2 linked regions of the Homo sapiens genome follow. The protein of the gene in region 2 purifies or fractionates together with the protein of the main gene of each other region. This does not show direct contact. Each region holds a gene or a part of one and is shown on either strand. Other genes may lie near its edges.

What was found.
Region 1: the proteins of URB2 (region 2) and WDR89 purify together in Homo sapiens (affinity purification with mass spectrometry; one large-scale study listed by BioGRID and IntAct). This does not show direct contact.

The regions. Positions count from the first base shown.
Region 1 is NC_000014.9:63,596,723-63,600,548, forward strand, and holds the end of WDR89 (WD repeat-containing protein 89), read right to left. Parts: intron 3,252-3,826; coding exon of another isoform or gene 3,221-3,251; coding exon 2,057-3,220; 3' UTR 317-2,056; downstream 1-316.
Region 2 is NC_000001.11:229,629,203-229,633,028, reverse strand, and holds part of URB2 (unhealthy ribosome biogenesis protein 2 homolog), read right to left. Parts: intron 761-3,826; coding exon 584-760; intron 1-583. UniProt on the Homo sapiens protein: Essential for hematopietic stem cell development through the regulation of p53/TP53 pathway.

The sequences.
Region 1 (3,826 bases), on a different chromosome or scaffold from region 2:
TGGAGAGCTGTAAATTCAAATAGGTAGGAATCTGTCCTCAGAACTCTGAAGGCATTGATCCACCATCTTTTGTCATCCAGATTTGCTAATGAGTCTAACACAACTGTAAATCTGTTCCTAAGTGATTTTTTTTTTCCGGACACTTGCAGGATTTTCTATTTACTCTGAAACTTCACAGTGCTATGCCTTGATGTGGATCTTTTTCATTCATTACACTTGACACTCTGCTGTGCCTTTCAATCTAAAGATTGAAGTTCTGGAATAGCCACTATATTAGTCCATTTTCACACTCTATAAATAACTGCCCAAGACTGGGTAATTTATAAAGGAAAGTGTTTAATTGACTGAAGAGTTCAGCATGGCCAGGGAGGCCTCAAGAAACTTACAATCATGGGGGAACGCAAAGGGGAAGCAAAGCACCTTCTTCACAAGGCTTCAGGAGAAAGAGTGAGGAGTTAAAGGGGCAGAGCCCTTTATAAAACCATCAGATCTTGTGAGAACTCACCCACTATCAGGAGAACATCGTAGGGGAAACCACCCCCATGATCCAATCACCTCCCACCAGGTCTCTCCCTAGACACATGGGGATTATGGGGATTACAATTCGAGATGAAATTTGGGTGAGGACACAGACAAACCATACCAGCCATTTATGTTATTTCTAATAACCCACTGCCCCCATTTCTTTTTTAACTTTTTTCACTTTCTAAAACTGTTAGTCTGGTTTTGACCCCTGTATTTATCTTCTGTGGCTTTCATCTTTTCTCTTTGTCTCTTTCAGTTCTACTTTCAGGAATATTTTCTCACCTACATCTTCCAACACTATTAATTACTTTTGAATTTTAAATATTTTTAATTTTAAAAAGCCCTATTGTTTTAATAGTTTCACTTCCAATTGTTTTATGAATGCGATTTCTCCAGATATCTTTCAAACTAATTTTTTTATTCACTAGATAGCACTGTCTTATATTTTAAAGATTCTGAAAAACACAATTTTTAACGCTTATGTAGTCCGCCATCAAAACATCAATGTACTGAAGATTTTAAGCAGCATGAGGCACCATCACGTTTTTGTTTCTTCCCCCTCATTTCCCCGCCCCTACCAGATCTGTTTTTGATGTTTAGCCTAGAAGTAGCAAGAAGGATGAACTGAAGCAGATTAGAGATCGAGCTGGTAATCCAGATGAGAAATAATGAAAGTCTTCTCTAGGGTAATAGTGGTGAGGTAAAGGCAAAAGGATAGCTGACAGACGTTAGGAGGTGAAATGGCACAGGACTTGGTGAAAAACTGGTTAGGAGAAGAGGAAAGAGAAAAGCCCAGGTTATCCTCAGATTTATGGTTTGGACAACAGGAAGAATAGCAATTTCTCCAAGTCGAGTCCTATTATAAATATTTTCATTTTTGTATTTCACTTTGAGTCTCAATTTACCAAGATAACTTCCTTTCAATCAGCAAAACACCTGTTTACTACTTACTAACAATATTAAAGATGCAAATATTTACGAAACATATTTTTCTCACTTTACATAGATGCCTATCATTTCATTTGTAAAAAAGGTTAATTCTATTTACTCATTAAAATACTTACATTTAAATACTCCAGCATAATACATTAGGTGTATTAAACATATAGATGCTCCTCAGATGAAGAATATAGTCTAATCTGGTTTTATACACAATAAAGACAATTTAAAATGTAAAAAACTGGGCTTAAAAAATGCAGCCAACCACCTGTTTTATTAAGTTTTACCAAGTATTTCCTTCTAAAAAGTCCTTATCGGAGCTATTTCTTTAAAGCCAACATTTACTACATTAACAGATGGGTTCTTTAAATAAGAAATTTTACTTTCAACTCACTGATTTTATACTTAGAGGCTTTAAAATTTTTTAGAATATGTGAAGACCGGAATTAAACCATTCTCACCATATTTTTCCAGGACTGTTTGCTAACTGGCTTGTTTTTACATAAAGCTTTAAACATGTCTACCATGGGTAGTAAACAAGAAGGACTATTTGAAACTATAAAACCTACCAAACAAAGTGCCAAATGCATTATCACTGCTTTTTCCTTCTTTTATAAGAATCATTACTATGAACTCGTACTCGTTGGTGCACAGAGGATGCTATTTTCATACTCTCTTTCTTTGTAAAGGTCTTCTCTATAGCTCCAGGTTTCCAAAGTAACAACTGTGCATCTTCTCCTCCAGTCAACAAAGAATCATCTTGCACATTCCAACAGAAAGAACGGACTGTAGCAGCATGCCCTCCCTGAAGGCTAGTCACATGGGTCAGTCCTGACATGCTGCAGTTCATCAAATGAATCCTTCCTTTGTTTGTTCCTCCAATAACATGCAATGTGTCTGTCTTTTCATGATATAGGCCACCAATCAAATAGTCCAAAGCATCTTCTTTCATGTTAACTACTTCTCTGACATCCTGGATGTTCAAACGTGTAACTGGTTCATCAGTGTCCAGATGATTAAGATCCCACCAATAAAATCCTTCATCATGTGTCATGCAGTAAATCTGTTTATAACCTTTCCCAGACCAACCAATACAGCTTACTGATGAAATTGAGTTACAGGTTGTAACCAGTGCATCCTCCTCATTATCAATATTAATATCAAATACATTTACCAGGCCATCAGATGAACCTGAGACTACCATGTTGGGATTGCTGGGATGGAAACGTACTTGAGTGACATCATCACTATGTGTCTCTGAATATGCACCAAGTGAGTCTTTAGTTGTAGATAAATTCTGAGAATTCATCCTTGCATCCCAAAACACCAACAATGCATCATCATCAACTTTTTCTGTACCAGCACAAATAATATGATCATTACAATTAATATCAAAACTGATAAAAATATTGGAAGGGTAACCCTTGAAGAGCTGAACAGGTTTTTCTCTGGCTACTCGAGCATCCCAGCATTTCACAGTGCCATCAGTACATGCTGAATATACACTGTCACAGGAATTTGCAAATCTGACTCCATTAAGAAGTCCAGGATATCCACTAAATTCTCGTAGTACATTTAACCTTTCTTTATCATATATTCTGATTGATCCATTAGAACATAAAACAGCAACCAAGTTTTCCTTTCCTGCTTGGACAGTCTTTGATGTGTCTATACCAAGAAGGTAAGTGGGCTCTTTGGTTCCTAAGGAACATTTAACAATGTGCAGATTAGCAAATTGTTCCTCAATCTTTTCCATGTCAACAGCAGCATCCAAGGGTAGTAAAACTCTGTAAAAAATAATAATAATAAAAATAAAAATTAATGCTTAACAAGGGAGACACATAAAAAAATTTAACTTGAAGTTTCTCTAAAATTGCAATTAAATCAAGAACATTTTCCTCTGAGGGCTGGCATGAATCAATCAATCAACAGAAATGTATTCTAATACTATAATCATTTCCTTCCTATGATGTAACTAAAACTCAGTTGCCTTCTAATTCAATCACTCTTTAATACTGAATTCACTACCAGGAGTGGTGGCTCACACCTGTAATCTCAGCACTTTGGGAGGCTGAGGTAGGAGGACTGCTTGAGGCCAGGCATTAGAGACCAGCCTGAGCAACATGGGGAGACCCCCCCGCCGTCTCTTCAAAAAATAAATTAGCAGGGCATGGTGGCCTATGCCTGTAGTCCTAGCTACTCAGGAGGCTGAGGTAGGAGGACTGCTTGAGACCAGAAGTTGAGACTACAGTGATCCATGATCATGTCACTGTCATACAGCCTGGGGAATAAAGTGAGATCCTGCCTCAAAAAAGAAAAAAAAAATGCTGAATTTACTATATATATTTTATGCTAGTAAGAG
Region 2 (3,826 bases):
GCACACATGAAGTGCTCACTAGTAGTAGTTTTTATTGTATCTAGCTATTCTCATGGTATTTAAACACACTCAGTTTTGACAATGAAGTTCCTACTTCTGATCTGAGACTTCAAAATCACTTTCAGTCAAAAACTGAGGTGGCCCCGGGTTGCCGGCCAAGCCACTAGTGGCACTTGTGGCTCGAAGGCCGTAGTGGCAAAAAAAAAAAAAAAAAAAACCTTTGAGGAAATTCCTGTCCGGATTTTGGCCTTTGATCTCCCTCTAGCCCAAAAGAAAGGTAAAGAAGAAGAAAAACAAATCAGAGAAGCATAATTTGCTAGCTACCTTTTCCAATTAAAAAGGTAATCAATGACCTGTTTATGAAATCGTTCCAAGCTTTTTTTGAATATTAAATAACAAAATGCTTAGAGCATATGATACACATTCAATAGTTACTATTTTAATTCCAATAATATTACATCCTTTTTCTCCTACCTTAGTATTTCCTATATCTTCATACAATTGACACTAAAACAAGTTTCCAGCATTAACAAGAAATCAATGGAGATGCATGCAACACATACAGAACAGAAAAGTGAATTACCTTGACTAGGGAAATCTGAAGATTAATGGTCTTTCCATTCTTGAGGAGATTCTGCAATTTTCTGCTATGTAAAATGTTATCTATATAGATCCAAAGCCTTTCAACAATATCTTCCTTCAGTTCAAGCTTTTTCTTATAAAATGCAACCAATGATTGTCTTGCCCAATCAAGTAACACCTGAATTTGAAGGACACATACACTGAAAATAAATTTATTTGCTGAGAGAAAGATGTTAGACATTATAGGGACATTACAGGTATAAGCAAATCCAATTGCCACGGGGGCGGCGGGGGAGAACCTCTCTTTTACAACTTACCTTTGATAATATTACTTACGTGTTCTGGTATTTTAAAATGTTTATTATTAAAGGATAAGAACAGGAAAACAACAAATTTGTCTTCAGCTAGGGCAAATTAAAAGTTTCAGGTGAAACTAACACGTCTTAACCCGTTTTTTGAGGTTATACAGGCATACCTCATTTTATTGTGCCTTGTAGATACAGATATTGCATTTACAAATTGGAGGTTTATGGCAACCCTGTGCCAAGCAAGTCTATCAGATCCTTTATTCCAACAGCATGTGCTTGCTTCATGTCTCTGCCACATTTTGGTAATTCTCCCAGTATTTCCAACTTTTCCATTCTTATATTTGTTAAGGTACTCTGTGACCAGTGATCACTGATGTTACTATTCTAATTGTTTTGGGGCACCATGAACCGTGTCCTTGTAAGTCAGCAAGCCTAATCAATAAATGTTCTATGCATCCTGACTGCTCCACCAAAATGCTATTACCCTGACGGGCTATTTTCCCCTCTCTCCTTCTCCTCTGGCTTTCCTATTCCTTGAGACGCAATAATATTGCAATTAGGCCAGCTAACCCTACAATGGCCTCCAGGTGTTCAAGTGGAAGGACTAGCTGCATGTCTCTTTAAATCCAAAGCTAAAAATAATTAAGCTTAGTGAGGAAGGCATGCTGAAAGGTGAGATAGACCAAAACCAAGCCTCTTGAGCCAATTAACCAAATCGTGAATGCAAAGGAAAAGTTCTTGAAGGAAATTAAAAGTGTTACTCCAGTGAACAACAAATGATAGAAAGTGAAACCGCCTATTGCTGATATGGAGAAAGTTTTAGTGGTCTGGATAGAAGATCAAACCAATCACAGCATTCCCTTAAGCCAAAGCTTAATCCAGAGCAAGGCCCTAACTCTCTTCAATTCTATGAAGGCTGAGAGAAGTAAGGAGGCTGCGGAGGAAAAGCTAGAAGCTACCAGAGGTTGGTTCATGAAGTTTAGGGAAAGAAGCCATCTTCATAACATAAAAGTTCCAGGTGAAGTTATGTAGAAGGTCGAGCTAAAATCACTGATGAAGTTGGCTAAACTAAACAACAGATTTTCAGAGTAGAAGAAACAGCCTTCTATTGGAAGATGCCATTCAGGACTTTCTTTTTTTTTTTTTTTTTTTTTTTGAGACGGAGTTTCGCTCTTGTCACCCAGGCTGGAGTGGAATGGCGCGATCTCGGCTCACTGCAACCTCCACCTCCCAGGTTTAAGCGATTCTTCTGCCTCAGCCTCCTGAGTAGCTGGGATTACAGGTGCCCGCCACCATGCCTGGCTAATTTTTTTTTATTTTTAGGGGTTTCGCCATGTTGGCTAGACTGGTCTCGAACGCCTGGCCTCAGGTGATCCACCTGCGTTGGCCTCCCAAAGTGCTGGGATTACAGGCGTGAGCCACTGTGCCCAGCTACCATCTAGGACTTTCATAGCTAGAGAAGAGAAGTCAATGCCTGGCTTCAAAGCTTCAAAGGACAGGCTGACTCTCTTATTAAGGTCTAATGCAGCTGGTAACTTTGACGCCAGTGCTCATTTACCATCCCCAAAATCACAGGGCCCTTAAGAATTATGCTAAATCTACTCTGTTTGTGCTCTGTCAATGGAAAAACAAAGCCTGAATGACAGCATATCCGTTTACAGCATGGTTTACTGAAGATTTTAAGCTCATGTCAAGACTGATCAGAACAAAAAGATTCCTATAAGAAGATTACTGCTCTTGGGTGACCAAGAGCTCCGATGGAGATGTACAAGGAGATGAATGTTGTTTTCATGACTGCTAACACAACATCCATTCTGCAACCCATGATCAAGGAGTACTTTTGACTTTCAAGTCTTATTATTTAAGAAACACATTTCCTAATGCTATAGGTGCCATAGTGATTTCTCTGACGGATGTGGAGAAAGTCAAACTGAAGATCTTCTGGAAAGAATCACCACTCTAGATGCCAGTAAAAATATTCCTGAATCATGGAAAGAGGTCAAAATATCAACATTATCAGGAGTTTGGAAGAAGCTGATTCCAGTCCTCATGGATGACTTTGAAGGGCTCAAGACTGAAGTGGAGGAAGCAACTGCATATATAATGGAAATAGCCAGGGAACTAGAATTAGAAGTGGAGCCTGAAGATGGGACTAATAAAACTTGAATGGATAAGTTGTTTCTTAGAGATAAGCAAAGAAAGTGGTTTCTTGAGATGGAATCTACTCCTGGTGAAGATGCTGTGAACATTGCTGAAATGACAACAAAGGATTGAGAATAGAACTTAAACTTAGTTGATAAAGCAGTGGCAGGTTTTGAGAAGTCCAATTTAGAAAGAAGTTCTACTGTGGGTAAAATGCTGTGTCTTTCATGAAAGGAAAAGCTCCATCAATGCAGCAAACTTCACTGTTGTCTTATTTTAAGAAGTTGCCAGTCACCCTAACCTTCAGCAATCACTACCCAGATCATCAACATTAAGGCAAGACCCTCCAGCATGATGACTCCCTAAAGGCTCAGATAACCAATAACCACTAGCATTTTTGGGCAATTTTTTAAAATTAAGATATGTACTTTTTTTAGGCATAATGCTATTGCATTCTTAACAAACCACAGTATAGTATAAACATAAATTTTATATGCACTAGGAAACCAAAAAATTTCTGTGACTCACAATATTGTGATCTATTTCAGTGACGTGGAACCAAACCTGCAGTATCTCTGAGATATGCATGTACCAAGTTCTAAAAGTTAGAAATACAAAGACTGCTCAGAATGACCACAGAATGTATCAGACACACGAAGCAAAAAAGTAAGTTAAGAGTTGAAAGTCTGGGATTTGTGTCCTGGCTTCCCCCACATTACCTACAGCTTAACCTCTAATACTACTAATATTTATACATCATCTGGGAGACAGACACAGTTGATATGAAATCATAC